Linked DNA regions of Homo sapiens: all the other regions are linked to region 2. Evidence: fine-mapped expression QTL. A gene starts in region 2. Each other region holds a variant in brackets. All regions are shown on one strand. Distances are from middle to middle.

Region 1 (2,685 bases), 250 kb after region 2:
AACCAAAAATGTGAAGGAGCTATGCAAGGAAAACTATAAAACACTGATGAAACAAACTGTAGAGGATACAGAAAAAAAATGGGAAGATATTCCATGCTCATGGATTAGAATATTGTTAAAATGACAATACTACCCAAAGCAATTTACAATTCAGGGCAACCCTTCTCAAAATACCAGTGAAATTCGTCACAAAAAGAGAAAAAAAATCCTAAAATGTATATGCAATCACAAAAGACCTCAAACAGCCAAAGAAATACTGACCAAAAAAAACGAAGCTGGAGTGGCCAGGTGCAGTGGCTCACACCTGTAATCCCAGCACTTTGGGAGGCCGAGGCAGGTGGATCATTAGGTCAGGAGTTCAAGACCAGCCTGGCCAACATGATGAAACCCCGTCTCTACTAAAAATACAAAAATTAGCCAGCTGTGGGCCGGGCGTGGTGGCTCACGCCTGTAATCCCAGCACTCTGGGAGGCCAAGGTGGGCAGACCACGAGGTCAGGAGATCAAGACCATCCCGGCTAACATGGTGAAATCCCATCTCTACTAAAAAAAAAAATACAAAAAAAAAAAAAAATTAGCCTGGCGTGGTGCCTGTAGTCCCAGTGGTGGGTGCCTGTAGTCCCAGCTACTCAGAAGGCTGAGGCAGGAGAATGGTGTGAACCCAAGAGGTGGAACTTGCAGTGAGCCGGAACTTGCAGTGAGCCCAGATCACACCACTGCATTCCAGCCTGAGTGACAGAACGAGACTCCACCTCAAAAAATTAGCCAGACATGGTGGTGCGTGCCTGTAGTCCCAGCTACTAGGGAGGCTGAGGCAGGAGAATTCCTTGAACCTGGGAGACAGAGGTTGCAGTGAGCCGAGGTCGCACCACTGCACTCCAGCCTGGGAGACAGAGCGAGACTTAGTCTCAAAAAAAAAAAGAAGGAAAGAAAAAGCTGGAAGCATCAAACTGCCTGATATCAAAATATTCTACAAAGCTACCATAGCCAAATCAGCATGGTACTGACATAAAAACAAACACATAGATCTATGGAAGAGAACAGAGAACCTAAATATAAATCTACACATTTATAGACAGTTCATTTTCAACAAAGGCACCAAAAGCATACAATGGGAAAATAGCAGTCTTCAATAAGTGCTGCTGGGAAAACTGAATAACGATATGCAGAATGAACTAGATGCCATCTCTCAGCATAAACAAAATCAAAACAGATTAAAGACATCTAACACCTGAAACTATAAAGCTACTAGAGGAAGAAACTGGGGAAACAATCCAGGACATTGGTCTGGGTAAAGATTTCTTGGGTAAGACCTCAACAGCACAGGCAACAGGAGCAAAAATAAACATATGAGATTACATCAAACTAAAAACTTCTCCACAGCAAAACAATCAACAAACTGAAGAGACAATCTAGAGTATGGGAAAAAAATATTTACAAACTATCCACCTGACAAAGATTAGTAATCAAAATATATAAGGAACTCAACTTGATAG[CA/C]AAAAAAAAAAAAAAAAAAATCCGATCAAAAAATTGGCCAAAGGTCAGAATACTTGTTTCTCAAAAAACGACATACAAATGGCCAACAGGTATACGGAAAAAATGCTCAACATGGCTAAACATCAAAGAAATACAAATCACACATTACCACAATGAGATGTCATCTCACCTCATAGGGTGGCTTTTATAGACAGGGAATAACAAATACTGATGAGGATGTGGTGAAAAGATAATCCTTGTATGCAGTTGATGGGAATGTAAATTAGTACAGCCACTATAGAGAACAATACTCAGGTGTAGTGGCTCATGCCTGTAATCCCAAAACTTGAGGCTGTGGTGGGAGGATCACTTGAGCCCAGAAGTTCGAGCCAGCCTGGACAACACAGGAAGACCTGTCTGCACACATATGCACACATAAAACCTGTCAGTCACAGTGGCTCATGCCTGTAATCCCAGCTCTTTAGGAGCCCAAGGCAGGTGAATCACTTGAGGTCAGGAGTTCGAGACCAGCCTGGCCAACATGGCGAAACTCCATCTCTACTGAAAATACAAAAATTAGCTGGGAATTGTGGCGTGCGCCTGTAGTCCCAGGCAGGAGAATCACTTGAACCCAGGAGGTGGAGGTTACAGTGAGCCGAGATCATGCCACTGCATTCCAGCCTGGGCAACAGTGAGACTCCGTCTCTAGAAAAAAAAGAGAGGTTGATTCATGGGTAAAATACACAGTTAGAAGAAATAAGAACTAGTGTTCAATAGATCAGTAGGGTGACTACATTTAACACTCATCTATTGTACATTTCAAAACAGCTAAGAGAATAACTTGATTTTCCTGCAATAAAGAAAGGATAAATATTTAAGGTGACAGATATTCTACTTACCCTGATTTGATAATATAAATGCATCAAATTATCACATGTACTCAGAAAACATGTACGTCTATTATGAATCAAAAAACTTTTTTTGAATTTTCAAATAGAGGGTGGGAGATTCTGGGGCCACCATGTCTGTGGGTAAAGATATTCCCTTGTCAGCCAGGCGCGGGTGGCTCACACCTGTTATCCCAGCACTTTGGGAGGCTGAGACGGGCGGATCACGACGTCAGGAGATTGAGACCATCCTGGCTAACACGGTGAAACCTCGTCAATACTAAAAATACAAAAAATTAGCCGGGCGTGTTGGCGGGCACCTG
Region 2 (2,685 bases):
TTGGTGTTTTCACTTTTAGGAAGTCCGCATGAATCTTATCTATGCTCTTAACTACGTCCTAATTTTTGTGTTTTTTGTCTTTTTTATAGGAATAGGGTTTTGCCATATTGCCCAGGCTGGTCTCGAACTCCTGAGCTCAAGTGGTCTGCCTGCCTCAGCCTCCCAAAGTGCTGGGATCACTGGCGTGAGCCATCAGGCCCAGCCTCTATGTGCTAATTTTTGAACAAATTCCAATAGGAGCATTCTAGTCTCTGAGTGTGAGATGACCAAAAATCAAGCCCTTGTGAGGCTGAATAGAGTCGGGAGGCAGGGAACTTAAGGCTGTTTCAGGCCGACTTCCTAGAACTAAATTGAAAGGAAAACCCTCACTTTCCTCGCCTAAATAACAAAAGGACCAGAGGCTACTCCCTTTGACCTTTTCTGCTGGCAGATAGGAAATTGGCTGTCTGCAACAAATCAGACTGATGGCCGGTTGAGTCTTCATTTGCATAGAAGTGTAACTTTGTAACGTCGTAACTTCACCCTAGCCTTTGATTGGTTGCTTTTTGCAACCAATCAGATGTTTGCACAGGAGTGTGACCTTTGTAACTTCAGACTCTGGTTGGCTGCTTTCTGCAACCAATCAGACTGAACGCGGGCTACCGCTTCATTTACAGGAGGTGAGCATGAAGTGGCCAATGGGAAAATTCTAGGAGGTATTGGGACTCATGAAGGTTCTGTTTCGGAGCCCTTGAGCTGCCGCTTGGCCAGTTCCCACACTGTGGAGTATGCTTTCGTTTTCAACAAATCCCAGCTCTTGTTCTTTTGTTGCTTCATTCTTTCTTTGCTTTGCTGGGCGTTTTGTCTAATTCTTTGTTCAAAACGCCAGTAACCTGGACAGCTTGCAGTCAAGACCCCCTACCGGTGACACTTGCGCTCTTCGGGGAGGTAAACAGCATTTCCTCTCAGCTCTGGGTTGGAAAAAGCCGCAGCAGCTGATGGGCCCGGGAACCCGAGGCCCCGCCCCCTAGGTGGTCCTAGCCTTTGCGCGTGCGCGGCGTGTCTGCGTGGGCGCATGCGCATAACGGCCGCCATCTTAACAGCGCGTTCCCGTTGGCGTCTGAGGTAAGTTTTTGTTTCTGGGCGGCGTTCGGTGGTGTCCCGGTGCAGCCACGCGAGAGTAGAAGGGTGGAAAGGGGAGGTGCCCAGTGAAATGGAGCCTGTCCCGTGCACTTTCGGGCATTTCGAGCATCTTGTGGGCTCTCCCAAGTCGCGGCCCCTCCTCTGAGAGCCACAGTCAGGTCTGTCCTCAGGGGTCGAGGCGGCTGCGCTGGGGCCTCGGCCCGGGAGGAGGCGGGGGGCACGGCCTTTCCATTTTCCCTGCTCCCCTCTGCAGAAGCCTCATAGGGCCCGGCGCGGCGGCTCACGCCTGTCATTCCCAGCGCTTTGGGCGGATTGGGTAGGAGGATTACTTGAGGCCAGGAGTTCAAGACCAGGCAGGGCAACATAGGGAGACCCCCCCCCCCAACCATCTCTAATGGAAAAAAAAAAAAAAGTCTCCACATCCAGCGTTGTGCCTTTTCTCTATAAGGAACAGCATCTCTGCCTTCCTGTTCACGGTGACCTTCGCTTGGTGTCCTCCTGGCCTCAGCAACCTGACAATTCTGTCGTGTCCCGGTGAGCACTTCATGCACTTGTTCTGGCTGTGGGTGTCGGGTCTTGAAGTTTAAGTTGTGTCGAGGTGGAAAGAAACCTTTTCAGGTGGTTGTTCGAGAGCACATGGATCTGATACCATCGAATGCATGAGTGGATGAATGCACATAACTGTAAAATTTACCACCAAGGAAAAACACAGGACTACTCAACTGTGGTTCCAGGCCATCACCTAGATCTCACTCTAGCGCCCTGTAGATTCCCCCAGAGGTTCAAAACGAGGGCATCCCCAGGAACACGGTGCGGGCTGATTTACTAGCAGGAGGGATTGAATTGATAATGAATGCGAAGATAACTTTTGACAGGTGGGTTTTCTACCAGTTACTCATTTGAAAGTCTTACTGAGGGCGGGGCAAGGTGGCTCACACCTGTAATCCCAGCGTTTTGGGAGGCTGAGGCTGGAGGATCGCTTGAGCCCAGGAATTTGATGCCAACCTGGAAAAAATAGGGCAAGCCTCTGTCTCTACTAAAAATAAAAAATTAGCTGGGCATGGTGGTGTCTGTGGTCCCATCCACTTTGGAGGCCGAGATGCGAGGATCACTTGAGCATGGGAGGTCGAGGCTGCTGTGAGCCATTATTGTGTCACTGCATTCCAGCTTAGGCAACAGAGTGAGACCCTGTTTCAAAAAGAAGAAAAAAAAACAAATACTGATCTAGAGAACATCTGTAGCTCGAGTAAAACAAATGTCTTTAGTCCAGGTGTGGTGGCTCACGCCTGTAATCCCAGCATGTTGGGAGGCTGAGGCTGGCGGATCACGAGGTCAGGAGTTTGAGACCAGCCTGGCCAACATAGTGAAACCCCGTCTTTACTCAAAATACAAAAAATTAGCCGGGCGTGGGCACCTGTAATCCCAGCTACTCAGGAGCCTGAGGCAGGAGAATCGCTTGAACCTGGGAGGCAGAGGTTGCAGTGAGCCAAGATTGCACCCTTGCATTCCAGCCTGGGCAACAGTGCGAGACTCCGTCTCCAAAAAAAAAAAAAAAAGTCTTTA
Region 3 (2,685 bases), 280 kb after region 2:
GGCCAACGTGGTGAAACCCCATCTCTACTAAAAATACAAAAATTAGCTGGGTGTAGTGTCGCGTGACTGTAGTCCCAGCTACTCGGGAGGCTGAGGCAGGAGAATTGTTTGAACCCAGGATGCAGAAGTTGCAGTGAGCCGAGATCGCGCCACTGTACTCCAGCCTGGCGACAGAGCAAGACTCCATCTAAAAACAAACAAACAAACAAAACAAACAAGCAAAAAAACACCAAAAAACAAACAAAAAAAATGCACTAAGTATAATAGAGGCAGGATTGCTTGAGCCCAGGAGTTTGAGAGCAGCCTGGGCAACATAGCAAGCGACTATCTCTACAAAAAATTTAAAAATTAGCTGGGTGTGGTAGAGCACCCCTGTACTCCCAGCTACTTGGGAGGCTGAGGTGGGAAGATTGCTTGAGCCCAGGAGGTCAGGGCTACAGTGAGCTGTGTCTGCAACACTGCACCTAGCCTAGGTGATAAAGCAAGATGAGAGGGGAAGGGAGGGGGGGGAGGGGAGGGGGGAAGAAAAGAAAGGAAGGAACGAAGGGAGGGAGGGAGGGAGGGAGGGAGAGAGGGGGAGAGAGAGAGAGAAAGAAAGAAAGAAAGAGAGAGAGAGAGAAAGAAAGAAAGAAAGAAAGAAAGAAAGAAAGAAAGAAAGAAAGAAAGAGAAGGAAGAAAGGAAGGGGAAAGAAAGAAGGAAAGAAAGAAAAGAAAAGAAAGCAAGAAAGAAAGAAAAGGAGAGGGAGGGAGGGAAGGAAGGGTGAAAAAGAAAGAAAGAAGGAAGGAAGGAAGGAGAAAGAAAGGAAAGGAAGAAAGAAAGAAAGAAAGGAAGGAAGGAAGGGGAAGGGAAGGGAAAGGAAAGGAAAGAAGGAAAGGAAGGAAAGGAGGAAAGAAAGAAGGAAGGAAGGAAGGAAAGAAAGAAAAAGAAAGAAAGAAAGAAAGAAAGAAAGAAAGAAAGAAAGAAAGAAAGGAAGGAAGGAAGGAAGGAAGAAAAAGAAAGAAAGAAAGAGCCGGGTGCGGTGGCTCACGCCTGTAATCCCAGCACTTCAGAGGCCGAGGTGGGCAGATCACCTGAGGTCGGAAGTTCGAGACCAGGCTGACCAACATGGAGAAACCCCGTCTCTACTAAAAATACAAAATTAGCTGGGCGTAGTGACACATGCCTGTAATCCCAGCTACTAAGGAGGCTGAAGCAGGAGAATCGCTTGAACCTGGGAGGCCGAGGTTGTGGTGAGCCGAGATCACGCCATTGCACTGCAGCCTGGGCAACAAGAGTGAAACTCCGTCTCAAAAAAACAAAAAAACAAAAAACAAAAAACAAAAAAAGATGAAAGAAAGAGAGAGAGAGGGAGGGAAAGAAAGAAATTAGCAAACAAATTCCAA[C/T]GCCATGGTAAGAAAGTAGTAAACCCAGTGGCATTTACTCCAGGAATGTAAGGTTGGTTCTGGCTGATTTGTATCTTTGTATTAGTGCATTCACCATTATGGATGATGTGTGGAGTTTGCCCACAGCAATACTCAAGACCCTTTCAGACACATCCTCCCCCAAAGGGGAACATTCACCTGTTCTCAGGGGTAAAACTGCAGCCTCAGTGGAGGACAGATGAAACCCTCTGCTCTGACGGACTAGAGAATGCAGTGGGGGATAGACGGCAGCCTCGCCAGACAGCAGTCAATTCTCTGGCCCTCTGCAACTCTGGATAGGGCTGAGTCCCTACTTTCAGGTGGGGAGAGTCACTCTGGGGGCTTCAAGAACACTCTTCTGTCAGTCCATCCAACCAGGTTCAGGAGCCAATGGAAGAAATCTGAGAAAGGAAGGGGTTCTGTTGAAGATGGCTTTTGAGAATCACTGAAATAAATGCCTGGTAGGTCTTGAAATTCTAACTTCTGACGTATTAGTCCATTTTCATATTGCTATGAAGAAATAACAGAGACTGGGTACTTTTTTTTTTTTTTTTTTTTTTTGAGATGGAGTCTCGCTCTGTCACCCAGGCTGGAGTGCAGTGGCACGATATCGGCTCACTGCAACATCCGCCTTCCACGTTTAAGTGATTCTCCAGCCTCAGCCTCCTGAGTAGCTGGGATTACAGGTGCACGCCAACAGGCCTAGCTAATTTTTGTATTTTTTAGTAGAGACAGAGTTTCACTATGTTGGCCAGGATGGTCTCAACCTCTTGACCTCGTGATCTGCCCACCTCGGCCTCCCAAAGTGGAATTACAGGCATGAGCCACTGTGCCAGGCCTTTGTTTTGTTTTGTTTTGTTTTGTTTTGTTTTGTTTTGTTTGAGATGGAGTATTCCTCTGTTGCCCAGGCTGAAGTGCAGGGGCACGACCTTGGCTTACTGCAACGTCCACCTCCTGGGTTCAAGTGATTTTCCTGTCTCAGCCTCTGGAGTAGCTGGGATCACAGGCGCCAGCTACCACGCCCAGCTAATTTTTTGTATTTTTAGTAGAGATGGAGTTTCACCATGTTGGCCAGGATGGTCTCAAACTCCTGACCTCAGGGGATCCACCCGCCTATCCTCCAAAAGTGCTGGGATTACAGGCGTGAGCCACCACATCCGGCTTGATAACTCTTATTTTTTTGTAGAGATGGAATCTCACTATGTTGCCCAGGCTGATCTTGAACTCCTGGCCTCAAGCAATCCTCCTGACCCAGCCTCCCAAAGTGCTGGGAATATGTGTGTG
Region 4 (2,685 bases), 110 kb after region 2:
TAGTGGATACAATATCTCTTTCCTCCAGAAACACGGCCAATTATTGTAGTACCACATATTGATAAACTGTCCTTGATTTACTGATTTCAAATTCCATGTTTATTAAACTATAAATTCCTATGTATACCTGTATCTGATTCTAGACTCTATGCCAGTAATACATTTACTTATGCCAATATCAAGATCATAATCTTTTCATTCCAGTGGTTTTGTATCAACTAATAATATTCCGTGGTAATAATAATAATAATGGTAGCTTTTTTGTTTGTTTGTTTTTGAGACAGTCTTGCTCTGTCACCCAGGCTGGAATACAGTGGTACGATCTCGGCTCACTGCAACCTCCACCTCCTGAGTTCTAGGGATTCTCCTTTCTCAGTCTCCTGAGTAGCTGGGATTATAGGCACGCGCCACCACGCTCAGCTAATTTTTGTATTTTTTTTTTTTTTTTTTTTTAGTAGAGATGGGGTTTCGCCATGTTGGCCAGGGTGGTCTCAAACTCCTAACCTCAGGTGATCTGCCCACCTCAGCCTCTGAAAGTGCTGGTGTGAGCCACCGCACCTGGCGGTAGCTGTTTTTTAAATCTTACTACCCTAAATGCTTAATAGACATTAAATTTTTACGCTCCCAATGATGTGGCTATTATTGTGATTTTTCCCTTTTGGTTTTTAGACCAGCTGTATTGAGATACAATTCACATATAACCAACACAGTTCACCCACTTAAAGCTATATAATTCAATATTTTTTAGTACATTCGCAGTGTTGTTCAAACATAATTTTGGAACATTTTAATCACACTAAAAGAAATCTTTGAATGGGAAAACCCATTTACCTCCTCTTTAAGCTCCAGGGAACCACAAACCTACTTTATCACTACAGATTTTTCTTTTGTAGACATTTCATATGGATATACTCATACAATTTATTTTTATTTTTGTATAGACAGGGTCTCACTATGTTGCAAGGCTGATCTCGAACTCCTGGGCTTAAGTAGTCCTGCCTCGGCCTCCAAAAGTGCTGGGATTATAGGCGTGAGCCACCATGCCCGGCCTAAAAATCATACAATCTTTTGTGAATAACTTTTTTCACTTAGCCCGTTTTTCAAGGTTCATCTGTATTATAGCCTAGATCATTCTATTTTATTGCTGAATGATATTCCATTCTATGTATATACCATATATGATTTGTCTTCAGTTGATGGACATATGGTTTGTTTCCACTTTGGGGGTGTTGTGATTAATGCTGCTATGAAAATTCACATATATCTTTTTGTGCATA[C/T]TGGCTTTTATTTTTTGAGAAATCACAGCTCACTGCAGCCTCTACCTCCTAGGCTCAAGCGATCCTCCCACCTCAGCCTCCTGAGCAACTAGGACCACAGGCATAAGCCACCACACCCAGCTAATTTTTGTATTTTTTTGTAGAGACAGGGTTTTGCCCAGGCTGGTCTCAAACTCCTAAGCTCAAGCAACCTGCCCGCCTCGGCCTCCACAAAGGCATAAGCCACCACGCTCAGCTGGTTTTTATTTCTCTAGAGTATATATCTGGGAATGGAATTGCTGAGCCATACAGTAACTATCTAAGAATTTGAAGAACTGCCACACTGTTTTTGAAAGGGGCTGTACTGTTTTACATTCCCACCAGAAATGTATGAGGGCTCCAACTTCTCTACGTCCCTGCTAACACTTTAGTGTTTTTCATGTTAACTGTGTTAGTGGTGTGAGGTGATACCTCATGATTTTGACTTGTATTTCCCTAACACTAGTGATGTTCAGCATCATTTAATGTGCTTTGTTAGCCATTTGTATGCTTCTTTGGAGAAATTTCTGTTCAATTCCTTTGCCCCTTTTAAAATTTGTTTTCTGGCTGGGCACGGTGGCTTGTAATCCCAGCAATTTGGGAGGCTGAGACAGACAGATCACTTGAGGCCAGGAGTTCAAGACCAGCCTGGCCAACATCGTAAAAGATAAAAAATCAGCCAGGCGTGATAGCACACACCTGTAATCCCAGCTACTCGGGAGGCTGAGGCAGGAGAATCGCTTGAACCCGGGAGGAAGAGGTTGCAGTCAGCCAAGATTATGCCACCGCACTCCAGCCTGGGTGATAAAGTGAGACTCTGTTTCGAAAAAAAAAAAAAAAAAGGTCCGGGTGCAGTGGCTCACGCCTGTAATCCCAGCACTTTGGGAGGCCAAGGCAGGCAGATCACCTCAGGTTGGGAGTTCAAGACCACCCTGACCAACATGGAGAAACCCTGTCTCTACTAAAAATACAAAAAAGTAGCCAGGCATGGTGGCACATGCCTGTAATTTCAACTATTCAGGAGGCCAAGGCAGGAGAATCGCTTGAACCCAGGAGGCGGAGCTTGCGGTGAGCTGAGATGGTGCCATTGCAATCCAGCCTGGGCAACAAGAGCGAAACTCTCTATCTTAAAAAAAAAAATTCCATTGAGTTGCAAGAGTTCTTTATATATTCTGAAGAGAGGTCCTTATCATATATATGATTTACAAATATTTTCTCTCAATAGGTTTTCCTTCTCTTTCTTGATGGAATATTTTAGAATACTAAACTATATAATATTGATGAGTGTCCTCTGAAGTACAAGTTTAATGTTGATAATTTTTTGTTTGCAATGTTTTTGATACTGCACCTAAGAAAACAGTACTAAATCCAGTATCATGAAACTTTTCTG

Alleles and levels. Alleles are on the strand shown, and positions count from the first base shown. SD is a standard deviation of normalised expression in the study named. Not every link is listed here.
In carriers of allele CA in region 1, the expression in subcutaneous fat of the gene that starts at base 1,055 in region 2 tends to be higher than with C alone (large effect, 1.8 SD a copy in TwinsUK).

Evidence for each region. PIP is the estimated chance that this variant, and not a neighbour inherited with it, causes the effect.
Region 1: its variant is fine-mapped to the expression of ZNF559 in subcutaneous fat (TwinsUK, PIP 0.95). The same link has a PIP of 0.9 or more in lymphoblastoid cells.
Region 3: its variant is fine-mapped to the expression of ZNF559 in whole blood (INTERVAL, PIP above 0.99).
Region 4: its variant is fine-mapped to the expression of ZNF559 in fibroblasts (GTEx, PIP 0.97).

Annotation. Positions count from the first base shown.
Region 1 is chr19:9,577,485-9,580,169 of GRCh38, forward strand. All of the region lies in intron 1 of ZNF121 (zinc finger protein 121), which reads right to left. Among named protein-coding and RNA genes, the nearest start is that of ZNF121, 5.7 kb to the right of the region's middle. The variant CA/C (reference allele first, on the strand shown) is at 1,496.
Region 2 is chr19:9,323,125-9,325,809 of GRCh38, forward strand. It overlaps ZNF559 (zinc finger protein 559), which reads left to right and starts at 1,055. Exons shown (of 7, transcript NM_032497.3): 1 at 1,055-1,104; 2 at 1,571-1,656. It overlaps ZNF559-ZNF177 (ZNF559-ZNF177 readthrough), which reads left to right and starts at 1,055. Exons shown (of 13, transcript NM_001384659.1): 1 at 1,055-1,104; 2 at 1,571-1,656. RefSeq lists an enhancer at 899-1,148 and a silencer at 1,319-1,458.
Region 3 is chr19:9,603,131-9,605,815 of GRCh38, forward strand. No RefSeq gene overlaps it. Among named protein-coding and RNA genes, the nearest start is that of ZNF561, 17 kb to the right of the region's middle. The variant C/T (reference allele first, on the strand shown) is at 1,384.
Region 4 is chr19:9,436,835-9,439,519 of GRCh38, forward strand. All of the region lies in intron 1 of LOC105372269 (a long non-coding RNA gene), which reads left to right. Among named protein-coding and RNA genes, the nearest start is that of ZNF266, 2.6 kb to the left of the region's middle. The variant C/T (reference allele first, on the strand shown) is at 1,278.